Linked DNA regions of Homo sapiens: region 2 is linked to region 1. A link means that fine-mapping ties the variant in region 1 to the expression of a gene that starts in the linked region. Tissue or cell type: whole blood. Region 1 holds a variant in brackets; the other region holds the start of a gene. All regions are shown on one strand. Distances are between the middles of the regions. Region 1 overlaps TSPAN3 (tetraspanin 3). Region 2 holds the start of PSTPIP1 (proline-serine-threonine phosphatase interacting protein 1).

What was found.
Region 2: PSTPIP1 starts here. The variant in region 1 is fine-mapped to the expression of PSTPIP1 in whole blood (TOPMed, PIP 0.97).

Annotation. Positions count from the first base shown.
Region 1 is chr15:77,057,898-77,063,270 of GRCh38, forward strand. All of the region lies in intron 1 of TSPAN3 (tetraspanin 3), which reads right to left. Among named protein-coding and RNA genes, the nearest start is that of TSPAN3, 11 kb to the right of the region's middle. The variant C/T (reference allele first, on the strand shown) is at 2,345.
Region 2 is chr15:76,992,083-76,997,455 of GRCh38, forward strand. It overlaps PSTPIP1 (proline-serine-threonine phosphatase interacting protein 1), which reads left to right and starts at 3,044. Exons shown (of 15, transcript NM_003978.5): 1 at 3,044-3,527. The coding sequence starts at 3,492. RefSeq lists an enhancer at 2,749-2,798 and a silencer at 3,039-3,228.

The DNA of each region.
Region 1 (5,373 bases):
AACCCTTTCTGCCTTCCTGCCCAGCCCATCTAATCTTCCCTTACATTCCTATCATAGCAAAAGGTACCAGACATCTAATTTTTCTGGTCAAACATCTGAGGATTAACTTTCCTTGCCCCACCTCTATAACCCATAAATCACAAAACTTCAACTTTACTTCCAAAACATTATTCGAATACCTCAACTCCTCTTCAACCCCACTGCAGTGCTTCTGTCTTAATTTGGGCCTTATCTTATCCCCCTAAATCTTACTTATTGACTCTCCCTGCATCTTAATACATTCTTTATACTACCAGGGTTATATTTATTAAAAATACAAACCAGATCAAGCCATAGCCTTACTTAAAATCAGGATGAGGCAAGTGAGTCCCCGATGAACCAAGCTATTCCTCCTTTTCAGCCCCAGATCTCATTACCCCTTGTGAACTATGAACAATATAGAACTGTTATACCCAAATGGACCACATATTCTCTCACTTCTTTGCCTCCGCTGTTCTCTCTAGAATGCTCTCTTCAAATGCCTGGGAACTCCTTGTCGCTCATTAAGATGAAGCTTAAATGTTACCTCTTCCTTTTGGAAGCCATTCTTGACCATTTCAGGCTGGATTAGCTGCCCTTGGTGGACACAAACATCTCCCAGTGCATGGTTCTAACAGAATATTTATCGAAACGGTTGCAATTATAGCTATACCTGTCTCAACACACCTTGAGAGCACGAATTGTACCCATCTGTCCTTCACCCTTGTATCATCTAGAACAGTACTTGGCAGACAGCAGGTATCAGTTAAAGTTTATTGAGTACACCTCATCTCACCCCTTTCCCTTGAAATCACCCTCCCAACTCTATCATAAGCTTTGGTTTGTATTTGCGTTGGTTTGTATTTGTATTTGGTTTGTATCTGGTTTCTCTTCAGTTCAATGCTTATAGCTTTTAGTTCACTATTCAATTATTTGGCAACTGAATCCAGCTTGCTGAATTCTGATGGCCATTACATCTGGAATATGTTAATATATCGTAAATATGTCATAAATATAAACACTGTACTTACAGCAAACTGCCTGTTCAAAGGTTCTCAGAGTTCACTGACATATTTGCTTTTGGGGCATGGTACTAGAGAATGAAGGTGAGCACAAAAGTGGGGGGGAGTGGAGAAGAGAAATAGTTTAATTTATCTTAATTTTATTTTATTTTATTTATTTTTTGAGACGGAGTCTCACTCAGTCGCCCAGGCTGGAGTGCAGTGGCGCAATCTCAGCTCACTGCAGGCTCCGTCTCCCAGGTTCACGCCATTCTCCTGCCTCAGCCTCCCGAGTAGCTGGGATTACAGGCGCCCGCCACTACACCTGGCTAATTTTTTGTATTTTTAGTGGAGACGGGGTTTCACCGTGTTAGCCAGGATGGTCTCGATGTCCTGACCTCGTGATCCGCCCGCCTCGGCCTCCCAAAGTGCTGGGATTACAGGCGTGAGCCATTGCGCCTGGCCAGACATAGCTTAATTTTAATTTGGGTGCATTTATTACAGAAGTATGTCAACTACTTAACACTCTTCCCAAATACCCCTTTTTATTGACTACTTGTGTGATATATATTCACACACATGTACACACACACATTTTGCTAAAGTAAATAGTATCAGTCCTCACGCTAAATTAGAAGCAATCTGAAGTGCAAATTAATCAAATTTTGTCATTTGTTTTTATTAGACGTTTCTCTATCCTTTAATGTTGTAGGTTTTTTTTACTCTAAAAGGCAGTATTTATTTCTTAAAAGGCTTGAGTTAAAATGAATTCCATTTCTGAGCTTTCGGTACACCTACTGAAACTTCACTAGCTTTAGCCTATGTAAATTCGAATGAAAATAAGAGAAAACTGGAGGCCATATGTACTTAACAATCAACCTGAAGCACAGTTCACTGAAGAACTACTTGCATTTTAGATATAAATTGATGAGTTTTCAATCTAAAGAGGTTCCTATGAGACTCACACTTAGTGCTGCTTGGAGGTGGGCCAAGGGAAATGTTTCCTCTGCTGCCACTGCCTCTCCCCCCTAAAAGAGGCACTCATCTGAAACTGAGACTACAAGAAAGCAGAAAAACCAGCAACAGAGACAACCAGATGCACAACAAATGCAATGGAGGGCTGTGGGGAGATGCCATTTGTAAAGCTGCCTCTTCTTTTCTGATAGACTCTACAACAGTTTTTTTTCCCAGGCTGCAGTCAACATCCAAGTCACACAACAAGATGAGAACATAACAAAGCTCTATTTGGCAACATATAGTTAAAGGAACTTACTAGTTGCACACACCAAAGAGAAAACTGCACGGATTGCTGATATGAAACTATA[C/T]ACATCAAATTGCTTATAAATAGACGATGTGTTTCCTAAATTGAAAACAGCTTCAAATTTTGCTTTTACTGAAATCTGTATATGGTGCTTATATCTTAAGCTGTATAATAAACAATTATGAAATGACACTGGTTACTTTGAAAATATAGAAGAGGTATCCCAGTAGCAGCTGAAGACCTAAAAACAGCCAAAAGTAATTGTTGTAATGATATCCAACCATCAATATGAAAAACACCCAAAAGAACATGGGAAACAGTATAGTAAATGGAAGAGAGGTTCTAAGAAATTCCTAACTAGTATGCATAGGGACTTTGTCATCCCTCAGATTTTTAATGCAGAAATTGTGGCTATCAGAAAAGCTATATAAAAGGTGAGCTTAAATTCTTCTTTTGAAGGGCCATGATGGGATTGAGATCTATCAAAGGATCTGAGCTTTGCCAATAAAGCAGCTGCAAAGGAGGGGGCTGGGGAGGAGGGAGGTGCAACAGAAAAGGAGATGAAATGTAGAACTTGGAAGCAGCTGAACTGCTTTAGTCACCACTGAGAAAATCTGAGCCTGTAAGGAGGATTTGTGCCAGGACAGTGTACTAAAAATATTCATCCTTTTTACAAAGAAGTGAAAGGAAATTTAGGCAAAAGGCTGAGGTCTGAAATTACAGAAAGAATAATTTTTAAAAAACCATTATTCTTTATCTTTTAATAAGCCTATACTCTAAATTAAGTCACAACATTTTAAAACTTTAGGAGAGCCAGTGCTTTTCCACTAAGCTGTCTAAAAAATAAAGCCATCTTGTTATAAAATTTTGCAAGTATATGAGTTCCAAAAGTATGATACTTCATTTTATGCTTTTACCCTTCCTCTACATATGCACAAATGTGAAATATCTTAAAGAGATTTCATTCTTATATGAGATTGCTTTTTCCATAGCTTAGAAACTAGTTTTTGGGGGGGTAATTTTCAAATATTCTATGAAAGAGACAAGTAGATAAAATGTTAAAATCTGGGCCAGGCGCAGTAGCTCACACCAGTAATCCCAGCACTTTGGGAGGCCAAGGCCGGCAGATCATCTGAGGTCATGAATTCGAGACCGGCCTGACCAACATGCAGAAACCCCGTCTCTACTAAAAATACAAAATTAGCCGGGCGTGGTGGCACATGCCTGTAATCCCAGCTACTCAGAAACGCTGAGGCAGGAGAATCGCTTGAACCTGGAAGGCAGAGGTTGCAGTGAGCCGAGATTGCGCCACTGCACTCCAGCCTGGGCAACAAGAGCAAAACTCAGTCTCAAAAAATTAAAAAAAAAAAAGTTAAAATCTGTAAAACTATTAAATTCCTTTTCATCAACCACGGTGTAACCTGCCATTGGAATGTGGCAATATTAAAAATGAAACAGATTTGCTACAAGTGGGGAGATAAAGTAGCTCTGTTGCCAAAAGTATACCTACATGGAGATTTAGAAATACAAAGGCGAAAGCATCCCACAGGACATTTTGGGCGAAGCTGAAGCAAAGAATAGAAGTGATTTTCTTGCAGTGGTATGTAGTAGCCATTGATGATGATTCCCATCTAGAACTGGCAAGAATCAAAACAATGTAAAGACAAGGCACCATCTGGACTTTATTCACCTAAAAGCACAGTGCCTGACAAATTCTTGCTTGCCTGTGTGAACTGCTCCCTTCGGAGTGATTTTTGCCAAAGAATCAATTAGTAAAGTAGAAGTGACTGGAGTGTTGAGAGAAAGGAAAAAAGTCAAGAAGTAAAAGACTGAGCAAAAAATGCTGTACTCTAGACTTTGTAAGAAAGCAGGTTTTAAAAGCAGAGGGAAAAAATAGGCAGGAATCCATCTTATGCATATATCTTTTTAACATTAAATCCAGAGTTTCCTGTACTGTCATATTATTTTTCATATACCTCTTTTCTCTCCTGGGAAGAATCGTTGGTAATTCCACACAGTGGATTTCTGAAAGCTTCCCCAAACTTCACCCTTATGCCATTACAAGTGTCTTAAAATCATCTTAAATCGTTTAGCATTCTACTTGCCATAATGTATATTCTCTAATTCAACCATGCTTTCACCTCTGACTTAATCTGATAGAACAGTTTACGTCACTAAACACAACTACTTCTTATGTAAGTCCACTACCTGAATATATCATTTACTCTCCTACCAACTCTCAAGGAAAAAAGGCCATTCCAAAGACTCCAAATCCTCTTTCAGAAATTAAAGCTACTCTTACCAAGAATTTCTGAAGCTATTAAATACTATCATTTTCTACCTAACAAACTGATCAGCAATAAAGTTAAGGAGTATTCAAAGATGTGTGAGGGTGCAGAGAGAAGGGCCCTCAGATGGGCGGAAGCACAAACTAATAGAGAATCATTTTTTTGGAAACAATCTGGCAATACATATCTGCCTCAGCATTGATGCCTTTATACCTACTTATTCCACTTCCAGGAATCTATCCTTTAGAAAGTTAGTCAGAAACACAGATTTGTGTAAAAGGTAATTCATCGAGATGTTGTAATGAAATTGTGGCTGCAAAAATGAAAATGAAAAAGCCCTGGTATTCAGAGGTGTGTCTGCATTCAGCCCTGAAATATTTTCTTAAAGCATCATTTAATAATATGCTTGTGGTGTGATAGGGGAAAAAACACATATATCACATATTGGAAACAAACCAAAATGTTGATATTGGTTGTCTCTGGGTGGTAGAATTATGGGTGATACCAGTTTGCTTTTTAAAATACTTTTAGTGTCTTCTTTAAAATATATTACTTGCATAATTAGAATAATAGTTAAAATTATGTCTGAAATTGAGGCTTTAATGTTCTCTCACCAATGAATTCATTCCTGGATGTGTCCTTAACCAACCAAAAACAGACACCTCTTCCATCCTAAATATTTTAGGCACCTCTGCCAATCTCTCCCACTTACCACTTTTCTCAGGTCTGTGTGGCTTTGACTCATCCTGTACATGTTTTCTGATTATCTAACACAATTCTTTCAATGTACATTATGTTCCTTTTC
Region 2 (5,373 bases), 66 kb before region 1:
AGGGGCACTCAGACATCTCAGTCTTGCTCCTCCATCTCCCTGACATCCCACCAATCCACTCAAGCCCCATCGCACCTGCCCCAACCAGACCTCATTCCTGTAAAAGTCATCACAATATCTTCTTCTGGTCTCACCCGCTCTGAGCCACTCCTTATGGAGAAAGAACTCCCTAGAACCTGTCTGTCAGTCTCTAGGCCCCTCAGAGCAAAAACCAAGTCTGCCTCCCCTTGAGGCCCCGGTCCCAGCAGGACCCTGCAGGAGTTGGTGCTCAGCAGTGCTTGTGTGCCTGGGCTGAGGAGAAGGTTGTGGTGGTCACGTGGTTGGCTTTCGGCATCCCCGGCTGCCCATTCGCAAGGCCAACCATGGGGAAGTATGAGCACGTGACCCACCTAGGGCCAAGGAGACACAAGGGAAGGTCTCCTGGGGAGCTGGGCAGAAGGGAGGGTGCAGGGGCTTTGGAGAAAATGAGACACAAGGGCAGGTGTCCTTTTCTTTCTCTGCTTGTGGCTGTGTCTGGAGTTGTAGATGAGCTGCTGCAGCTCCTTGGCCTCCAGCCCAAGGAGGAAGATCGTAAATGCAAGAGAAACTCAGAGAGACTGAGCTGAAGCCCTCATGTACCACAGCTGGAGGCTGCCCTGCCTCCAGCCCCGTTGTGTAGATGACAGCACACGTCCTCTGTGTCAGACCCTCTGGTTTATGTTCTTTGCAGCCAAAAGCATCCTCAACTGATGCGAATAACACAGTGATGCAGAATAGCATGTGCTAAAGGCTGGCCTCTCATTCCTATGGCACCATCAGCCCCGGTGGCTTCCCTAGATTGTTTTTCCTTTTATTGACTTGGGTGAGAGGGTCTCGAGGTAGAACTGGAGAAAGGAACAATGAAACGCTTTTTGAATAGAGGGCTGTTAGTAAAAGACAACTGTGGAAGTTAAGAGCGTGTGCTTTGGCTTCGGACAGATCTAGGACCAAAGCCCAGCCTTCTGCTTATTGCCTGCTACTTGGGTGCGTTACTTACACTCTTTAATCACTAGTTTGCCCCTCTGTAAAGTGGGGATAATGACAGTGTAACTGAGGTGGTCCGTGTGAAAAGCAGAATGATGTACCCGGTGCTGGGTAAGTACTCCAAAGCCGAATTGGCTGTCTGGTCGCCCAGCCTGGGGACCTGCAACAGGTAAGGGTGGAAGGGAGGGGAGGAGGAAGGCCTCTCTAGTAGAGAATTGCAGAGTCTCTCCAGAGGTTCCTCACATTACTTCCTTCCCCAGTTGCTCCAGCCCGTCACCAGCATGGCCCTCCATCCGGGGCTGCCCTGGCTGGACAGGTACAGTTGGGAAAGGAAGGCCTCATGTGTGGGAGCCTTGAGGTTGGCTTTGAGGGTGGGAGGATTTGCCCAGGTAAGGAAGATCAAGGAAGGCTTGCCAGAAGGGAGGCTGGGAACAGAGCAGGTGGGAGTGGGAAAGGTGCCTCCAGGGAGAGGGAAGAGGCCTGGCTGGAGCAGAAGTCTCTGGGAGGTGATGGGAAGGACACCTAGAGAGGCAGGGCAGGGAGCCCAGCTGTAAAAATTTCTGCCAATAAGCAGGCAGGAGCCTTCTGTTAACAGAGGGTCTCTAGTCTGCTCCAGACCTAGAGGCATCATCCCATCTGATGGATGGAGAAACTGAGCTCAGGGAGGCTGAGCCAGTGCTATCAGAGGTGGTGGTGCCATTGGGAGGTGAGGTGCAGCCTGGCTCACTCTATGGCCTACAAAGTTCAAGGGGATTTTTACACTATTAATTGTCTTCAGCTGCAAGTAACAAAAAACCTGACTGGGGCGCCTTACAGATTAAAGATTAGCTCAAATCCAAGGTTTCTGGAGGTGAGGGCCTTCTGGGGGCAGTCCCATTGCTCTGCAATCCTCCCCAAAGTGTTTCCTCTTGGGTGGCTATTTCAGAGCCTGGGTGTGCCCCCTCTCTCTAAACCCTGGGCATGCATAATGGGCACTTGGGAGCTCAACTATTTCATCTGCAGCAGCTCTCATCTTATCACCCCGTCAGCTGTAAGGCAGACATCAGTGAGGGTGGTGATTTGCGGACAATCCCTGACTCACCCCATTTTGCCAGCCTGCCCTGGGCTCAGGACTTCCTGCTGCATCTTCTGCTGAGCCGGCAGGGCGTGGCGTCTCAGGGCTGGGGCTGGGGCTCTAGTCCAGGGCTCTTCCTAAGGTGGTACCACACAGTGCCCCCAGCACCTGCCCACCAAACTGGAAATTCCAGAAATATTCTCGACACCGTCTACTTTCCAAAGACTGGGTGTGGCAGATGAGGAAGCTGAGGCTCAGCGAGTTGGGGGGTCTATTAAGGTCCCTCAGCCCCTGAAAGGTGGGGTCAAAATTAAACAAAAACTGGGCCTCAGACTGGGTTTCCAAACACCCCACTCTGTGCCTTGATAATCCTGTTTCTCTCTCCATCCATTCCCATTCACTGAGCCGGAAGCCTCCATCTTCAGAAGGGGGTTCTCTGCCCCAAACAGCGTCTAATCTGGAGACTTGCGGTGGTGGCGGTGGTGGTGGTGGGGGCAGTGCCGGGGCCTCAGGCTGTTCTCCCTCATCTTGCTGCCTGCTCACCTTGCCTCTGTGTGCTCACAGCCCCCCAGAGCACAGCTGTGTCTGCTCCCAGACTATGGGCTCCTTGAGGGCAGGACCTGGTTTGGGTCCCAGAGCAGCCAGGGTTTGATGAATGACAGATGCCCTAGACCTGGGTAAGCCCCTCCAGAATGACTTGCTAGTGCGGGGTGGGGAGTCTGGCATCTCTGGGCCCAGCCTGGAAGGGTGCTGGACTGGCTGGCGGGTGACACACCTGGGGTTCCTGGGCCCCTCCTGGCCACACTGTCAGTGGGCCTCAAGCTCCCTTAGCATATGGCCTCTGGAATAAAGTGAGCCCGCACCTCGGGAGGGGGCAAGCAGAGGCAGGAGCAGGATGGCAGGTGGCAGGCGGGGCTGCACAGGGGAGCACAGCAACTCCACTTCCTGTGGGCGAGGGCCCTGTGCCTGCCCCGGGGGAGGTTGCACAAACCTTCCTGCGCAGGCCTCGGGCTGCCTGCCTGCCTGCCTGCCTGGCCCGGCCCGAGCTCCAGCCTGCCTCTTCCACTGGCCACTGCCTCCCACCCAGGGCTGGCATCCCTGCTCCCTGCCCTGGGTCCCAGACTGTGTCCTCCATCACCGCAGGGTCGGTGAGGGGCTGGGCTGGACACCAGGGCCCGCCCTCCCATCACTGAGCTCCACTCCTTCCTCATTTTGCTGCTGATTCTAGCCCCAAACAAAACAGGTTGAGCTTTTTCCTCCCCTCAGAAGCTCCTCTCTGGCTCGTGGCTGCCTTCTGAGTGTTGCAGACGGCGCCGGCCGGGAAGGGGGGCCTGGGCCAGCCCTGCCAGGACTGGGACGCTGCTGCTGGCGCCTGGCCCTCCATCAGGCCAGCCTGTGGCAGGAGAGTGAGCTTTGCCGCGGCAGACGCCTGAGGATGATGCCCCAGCTGCAGTTCAAAGATGCCTTTTGGGTGAGTGAGGATGGTTGGGGGCACTGAACAAGTGGAGGGGGCAGAGCTAGGCTGAAATCTCCATGCAGGTGATGGGATGCGGCTCCGAGAGGGGAGCTTTCTCATAAAATAGTGGTTGATTCTTGGTCTTAATTGTCATGGAGGTGGCCCAGGCCCCCACCCCTTCTGGACTGGAACGCAAGTGGACTCCGTGAATGAGCGTCCTCCTCTCTGCTGCCCCGTGTGTTTTCTCCTCTGGGAGACCTCTCCCCACAGCAGGAGCTCCTCAGAAGAGGGTAACACATGGGTGGGGGCTTGAGGAGGATGTGTGGGGCAGCAAAGGAGGGGTCACAGATTTAGAGACCAGACAAACTTGAGTTCAGGTCTTGGCTCTGTTACAGGCTGGGCAAGTCATTTCTGTCTCCAAGCCTCAGTCTCTCCATCTATATAATGGTGATAAAATAGAAATCAACACACCAACTAAAGCATTGGATCAGCAAGGGGATCCAAGGCACTAAAGCCCCCAGCACCTTGCCTCACTCCAAATGGTAATTCTGTTCCCCTCACCCAGCCCCTTGTCCCTTGCAGACCTTAGGGGTCCTTCAAGGAGGCAGCCAGGTGGGCAATGGCTTGCTTACTTTCTTAAATTCAACACGGGCTTAAATCAAGTCATTTCCCCCATGAAATAAGGGCGCCCAGCCAGTGGTAGAGGTAAAGTGGCTTGGCCCGGGCCACGTAGCCTGCAGCCCAGCTTGGACCCCTGGTCATCTCAGCACTTTTCCAGCTGTCCTTCAACTACCCCTCTGCCCCTCAGCTCTGGCTGTGCCCAGGGCTCTGGGGAAAAACTGAGACCTCTCTGGTTGGAGCTGGGGAATGTGGCTGTCCCGGGGTGCTGCCTCCAACCCCGAAGAGGACGCTCTGGCCCTCGGCTCAGCCGGCTGAGCCCCAGCCAACAGCCCTGCCCTCCCCGGGCCTTTTCCTGGGGCTGCAGCCAGGAGGATGAGAGCTATGGAGCCAGGCCTTCCTTCCCTTCCGGCCGGCTCCACTTGGGGCCTGTGGCCAGCGTGTGAGTGTTCTGCTTCCTCTGCTCTGACTGTACAGTAGGCAAAGGACCCCACGTGGGGAGGGCACCTTGTGCCTTTCTGGGCCTCAGTTTCCCCATCTCTACAAAGACAGGGTGGGCCCAGCCCAGAGAAGCCAATGGAGGCAGAGCTGCCTCAGCCCATCCGGAGGACCAGGCACCAGGATGCTCAGGGCCCAGGCTGGCAGCTGGAGCCCTGGGGGATGGGGGATGTGAGTCACCACCTAGCTGCCCTGCCTTGGTGTGCAAAGTTGGGGGAAGGGGTAGGGCCTGGAAACCCAGGCCACTCTGTAGCCCAGGGCAGGCCAGGACCCCTTGACTATTTTATCACTGAGACCTCTGTCCAGTCCTAGAGCCCCTGGGCCTGCCTTCCCTAGGGCAGAGCTGGGCAAGGAGCAGCCTCCATGGCAGGATCTGGGCACAGGTAGGGGTGGCGTATAAGGGAGCAGGGTATGGCAGCCGCAGCAGAAGCAAGCAGCCAGCCCCTGTGGAGCTTCCTGAGCGGCATCCTGCCCACACTCTGTGCTCGTCGCACCTCTGGGCTTCCTGGCCTCCAAGTGCCTTGTCTCCTCTGTGTCTGGCTCCCTGAGCCTGGGGCGGGCATATAGTTTCCCTAGGGAAGGCCAGAGCAGGAAGGGGAGAGAAGTAGCCAGTGGGAACCTCTCACACTGAGTCTGGGCCGATGCCCCGAAAGGTCACTGTAGGCATCACCTGCCCCAGGGCTCTGGATTCTAATACCTCTTCCTGATGCTCAGCCCATCCCAGTGCATAACAACTAACATTTGC